2 separate regions of the Homo sapiens genome follow, and region 1 is linked to region 2. The links come from fine-mapping of genetic effects on gene expression. A gene starts in region 2. The other region holds a variant in brackets. All regions are shown on one strand. Distances are from middle to middle. Region 1 overlaps NCAN (neurocan). Region 2 holds the start of SUGP1 (SURP and G-patch domain containing 1).

The links. PIP is the estimated chance that this variant, and not a neighbour inherited with it, causes the effect. A credible set is the group of variants that fine-mapping cannot tell apart.
Region 1: its variant is the best candidate, but not a certain one, in a credible set for the expression of SUGP1 in whole blood (TOPMed, PIP 0.51).

Annotation. Positions count from the first base shown.
Region 1 is chr19:19,240,805-19,243,821 of GRCh38, reverse strand. All of the region lies in intron 12 of NCAN (neurocan), which reads right to left. Among named protein-coding and RNA genes, the nearest start is that of HAPLN4, 20 kb to the left of the region's middle. The variant T/C (reference allele first, on the strand shown) is at 1,206.
Region 2 is chr19:19,318,792-19,321,528 of GRCh38, reverse strand. SUGP1 (SURP and G-patch domain containing 1) reads left to right here and starts at 1,020. Exons shown (of 14, transcript NM_172231.4): 1 at 1,020-1,066. The coding sequence starts at 1,033. MAU2 (MAU2 sister chromatid cohesion factor) reads right to left here and starts at 700. Exons shown (of 19, transcript NM_015329.4): 1 at 394-700. The coding sequence starts at 669. RefSeq lists a silencer at 320-541 and enhancers at 1-884, 593-1,082, 1,103-1,152.

The sequences.
Region 1 (3,017 bases), 78 kb after region 2:
ACTCCTGACCTCGCGATCCACCCACCTTGGCCTCCCAAAGTGCTGGGATTACAGGCGTGAGCCACCGCACCTGGCCAATTTTAACCATTTTTACGTGTGCAGTTTATTGTTATTTTTATTTTGTTGAGACAGAGTCTCTATTATCCAGGCTGGATTGCAGTGGTGCTACCTTGGCTCGCTGCAACCTCCGCCTCCCGGGTTCAAGAGGCGGTGTGCAGTTTAATGCACTAATTACATTCACAATGTTGCATAACCATCATTGTTATTTCCAGAACTTTTTCTTTTTCTTTTTTTTTTTTTTTTTTTGAGATGGAGTCTCTCTCTGTCGCCCAGGCTGGAGTGCAGTGGCATGATCTTGGCTCACTGCAACCTCCGCCTCCCAGGTTCAAGCGATTCTCCTGCCCCAACCTCCTGAGTAGCTGGGATTACACGTGCACGCCACCACGCCTGGCTAATTTTTGTATTTTTAGTAGACACAGGGTTTTACCATATTGGTCAGGCTGGTCTTGAACTCCTGACCTTGTGATCCATCCACCTCAGCCTCCCAAAGTGTTGGGATTACAGGCCTGAGCCACCCCGCACAGCCTATTTCCAGAACTTTTTCATCACAACACACCAAAATTCTGTACTCATTGAGCACTAGTGACTCCCCCTTCTCCCGACCCCAGCCCCTGGCAAACACTAATCTACTTCCTGTCTCTAAATTTGCCTACTCTGAATGCTTCATGAAAAAAAAAAATCATACAACAGCTGGCCTTCTATGCCTGGCTCATTCCACATTTTGTTTATTATTTTATTTTATTTTATTTTTGAGCCGGAGTCTCGCTCTGTCTCAATTTTTGAATTTTTTGTAGAGATGGGGTTTCGCCATGTTGCCCAGGCTGGTCTCAAACTCCACAACTCAAGCAATCCACCCACCTTGGCCTCCAAAAGTGCTGGGATTGCAGGCATGAACCACTGCACCTGGCCAACTTCTCCTTTATGGCCGAACAATATTCCATTGCATGGATGGACCACATTTTGTCTCTTCCTTCATCTGTTGATGGGTATTTTGGATGTTCCCACCTTGGCTATTGTGAATAGTGGGGCTGTGAACATTCATGTACAAGTTTTTGTTTGTTTGTTTGTTTTTTGAGACAGAGTCTCCCTCTGTCACCCAGGCTGGAGTGCAGTGACGCGATCTCGGCTCACTGCAACCTACGCCT[T/C]CCAGGTTCAAGCGATTCTCCTGCCTCAGCCTCGCAAGTAGCTGGGACTACAGGCATGTGCCATCACACCCAGCTATTTTTTTATTTTTAGTAGAGACAGGGTTTCACCATGTTGGCCAGGCTGGTCTTGAACTCCCGACCTCAGGTGATCCACTCGCCTCGACCTCCCAAAGTGCTGGGATTACAGGCGTGAGTCACCCACCACGCCTGGCCTGTTTTGTTTTGTTTGAGACAGGGTCTTGCTCTGTCACCCAGGCTGGAGTGCAGTGGTGCAATCATAGCTCACTGGAGCCTCAACCTCCTGGGCTCCAGCGATCCTCCTACTTTGGCCTCCCCAAAGTGCTGGGATTACAGGTGTGAGCTACCACACCCAGCCTCTTTTTCTTTCTTAGTACAATTTTTTGTTTGTTTGTGTTGTTTTGGAGATGGAGTCCTGCTCTGTTGCCCAGGCTGGAGTGAAATGGTGTGATCTTGGCTCACTGCAACCTCTGCCTCCCGGGTTCAAGTGATTCTCCTGCCTCAGCCTCCCAAGTAGCTGGGATTCCAGGTACATGCCACCACACCCAGCTAATTTTTGTATTTTTAGTAGAGATGGGGTTTCACCACATTGGCCAGGCTCTTCTGGAACTCCTGACCTCAAGTGATCTGCCTGCCTCGGCCTTCCAAAGTGCTGGGATCATAGGCGTGAGCCACTGTGCCCGGCCTCTGTGTATAAATTTAAAGGGTACAAGTGCAATTTTATTATATGCATATGCATATAATAAAATATATATCATCTAGTGGCAAAGTCTTGGCTTTTAGTGTATCCATGACCCGAATAATGTACATTTTTGTACCACTTTGAATCTCTGTTTTCAATTCTTCTGGGTATGTATCTAGTAGTAGAATCGCTGGGTCATGTGGTAACTCTATGTTTAACTTTTTATTTTTATTTTTATATTTTTAGAGACGGGGGTCTCACTGTGTTGCCCAGGCTGGATTCCAATTCCTAGGCTTAAGTGATCCTCCCGCCTCAGCTTCCCGATAGCTGAGACTACAGGCTCGTACCACTGTGCCCAGCTTCTATGTTTAACTGTGTGAGGAACCGCCAGATTTTTACACAGCGGGAGAAGGGGAATTTTTATCTTGAGAACAATGGAGAGTCTGGGAGGGCTTGAAGCAGGGAGGATGCTGAGCTAATATGTTTTTAGAGACAGGGTCTCGCTCTGTCACCCAGGCTGGAGTGCAGTGATGTGATCACAGGTCACTGCAGCCTTGAACTCCTGGGCTCAAGTGATCCTCCTCACTCAGTCTCCCAAAGTGCTGGGATTACAAGCATGGACCACCAGCCTGGCATATATATACTTTTTTTTTTTTTTGAGACAGGATCTCGTTCTATCATCACCCAGGCTGAAGTGCAGTGGAGTGATCTCGGCTCACTGCAACCTCCGCCTCACAGGTTCAAGCGATTCTCACGCCTCAGCCTCCTGAGTAGCTGGGATTAGAGGCGTGGGCCACCACACCCAGCTAATTTTTATATTTTTAGTAGAGACGGGGTTTCACCATGTTGGCCAGGCTAGTCTCAAGTGCCCACCTTGGCCTCCCAAAGTGCTGGGATTACAGGCATGAGCCATCATGCCCAGGCTAGAAATGAGAATATTTGAGAGACCATGGCTGGGGGACCAGGCAGAGTGAGTAGGGGAGGCATCAGACCCTAGTCTCAGGTTTGTAACCTCTGCAGCTTCGTGGGCGCGGTCTGTTTACTTGGGCTGGGGAAGTCAGGGGAGAAGGTTTAGCCTTCACTTGAAGCTCCTTTGCCAACTCCAGCATCTT
Region 2 (2,737 bases):
TGATGCTCCGGAAGCTGAACCAGGAGGAGCTAATAGCTTCAGGACCCTGTGATGTCCCCATCGCCACCAACAGGTGGGATCCTCCTGAAAACCAGACGATTTGCGGATCCTGTTGCTCCCAATAACAGGCAACTTTCAGAGTACGGTGACGGGGCTCCTGGAGCCCTGTCACCAGAAACGGGAAATAAGGCGTGGGGGGCGAGGCTTTCGTGTCCCTTGAGAGGCTGGTGGCTTTGGGGTCCGGCAGAGGCGGGTGGGGGTCCTGCGGCTTTGACGGAGGTCGCGCCCCCAGGTCGCCGAGGAGCGGCCCCCCACCCGCCGCGGTCGCGACCCGTCAGCCCAGATCTTGCAAGGAGCCCGCGACTCCTCCCTCGCGGCCCGGCCCGCGCTCACCGCCTTCTCCAGGTGGCTGCGCGCCTGCTCGCTGTTCTTGGTGTGGTGATAGAGAACGGAGCCCAGCTGCAGGTGTGTACGGGCCTCGATGCGCTGCGGCGGCTTGAAGGGGAACACGGCCTGCAGGCAGTGCACGCACAGGCGGATTTTGGGCGGGCTGGAAGTGCGGAAGTGCTCAGCGAAGCCCAGAAGCGCCAGGTACCACGAGTCGGCCGCCTCGGCCTGCGCAGCCTGGGCCGCCGCCGCCTGGGCCGCTGCCGCCGCCTGAGCCGCCATTTTGGCCTCCACAACAACAAGCCGCCGCCACAGGGAGGCGGAAGCAGGCGCGCGAGACGGGGCCGGGCTCTCCTCGCGGCTTCCGCGAGATCTGCCGCCCAAAGCATCCTGGAACATGTAGTTTGTATTTGGGATGACTGCCGCTCCGGGAAGGTGTAAAAGGGCGACGCCGTTTGGTTATCGTGACTGGGACTTAGGCATCGCTGATAGGCTGAGGCTTCCGTTTCTGGAGGTTAAAAAAAAAAAAACCCAGTCGTTCACGCAGTAATAGGGCGAGTCTGACCGAGGCGGACTACATCTCCCATCAGGCGATGCACACTATAACAGGGCCCCTTAAGGGGCGCCGGAGCATTGTGGGATTGGATGAGTCTCAAGATGGACAACCGGGATGTTGCAGGTAACAGCCCCCGCCTCCTCTCAGGCGGCCGCCTGGGTCCCTGGGGCTAGGTGTCTCCCCTGACTCCTCGGGTCCGTCCTGCTGCGACCCGTGGATCCCTCGCTTCAGCCCCGGGGCAGCCCACAGCGTCGGCTTCTGCACCTCTTGGTTTCTCGAGACCCCAGACCCAGGTTGCTGGCCGCCCCCGCTTGGTTTGCTGAGGACGCACGGATCTCCGTAGAGGCCGCCACCCGGCTCGGCCCTGCGTCCCGTTTCCGAAACAACCGCCTTCAGGGCTGCTCCAACCTCCGTTCCCCAATACGGCGACAACCTTGGGCTGTCCCTGCACCCCTCTTTTCGTCGCAGCTGGCCTCTGGCCTGTGTCCCGCTTTCTGGAAAAGCTGCTTTTCCGAAGTGCTTTGAGGCTCCCTTGACACACTTTCCCGCGTCTTTTGACCCTCACTTTGCTGCAAGCCTTGGCCTTTCTGCTTCCCCAGAATAGAATGCATTTACCCATCAGCAGATACTTAGGGCGTGCTCACTGTGTGCCAAGCAGTGTGCTGGGCGCTACGCATGCAGCGGTGACCGAAACAGGGCCCTGCCTTCCTGGAGGTTGCTTTCTACTGGGGTGTCAGTGCATTAATGAGAAAATATTTACAAAAACTTACGTATGATGTGAGGTTACGTATGATATGATCAGAGTGGAGGCTTCTGATATTGGGTAGTCAGGAAAGACCTTTTCTTTCTTTCTTTCTTTTTTTTTTTTTTTTTTTTTTTGAGACAGGGTCTCACTTTGTCGCCCAGGCTGTAGTGCAGTGGCTCACTGTGGCTCCCTGGGTTCAGGTGATCCTCCCACCTCAGCCTCCCTAGTAGCTGAGACCACAGATGCGCGCCACCACACAGCGAATTTGTGTGTTTTTTGTGTTGCCACGTTTCCCATGCAGGTCTGGAATTCCTAGGCTCAAGCGATCCTCCCATCTCAGCCTCTTAAAGTGCTGGGGTTACGTAAAGGTGTGAGCCACCACACCTGGCCCAGGGAAAGGCCTTTTCAAGCAGAGGACATTTGAGTTAAGACAATGAATGCCAGCTATGGGAATCCCTGGAGGGTGGAGCCTTCCACACAGAGGGGGGCCAGTAAATGCAGAGGCCCTGGTAGGATGGGCTTGTCCTTTTGAAGAATGTCAAGGATGAAGCAGAAGGGAGGGGAACCATCTGGCGGGGCCTTGAAAATGGCCTTTTAGAATTCTTTTTTTCTTTTTGTTGAAGCGGAGTTTCGCTCTGTCGCCCAGGCTGGAGTGCAGTGGCACGATGTCGGCTGACTGCAACCTCTACCTCCCGGGTTCAAGCCATTCTTCTGCCTCAGCCTCCTGAGTAGCTGGGATTACAGGCGCCGGCCACCGCACCTGGCCAGTGTTTTTGTGTATTTTTAGTAGAGACGGGGTATCACCATGTTGGCCAGGCTGGTCTCGATCTCCTGACCTCAAGTGATCTGCCTGCTTCAGCCTCCCAGGTGCTGGGATTACAGGTGTGAGTCACCATGCCCGGCTCAGACTTTTAAAATTTGGATTTTATTCTGAGTCCCATGGGGAACCTCTGAGGTGTCTTCCCTGTCTCCATACTATCACCCTAGTCTGAAGACATCATTGTCTGTTGCTTGGAGCCAGTGAGCCTCCCTGGTCTTGTTGCCTGTGG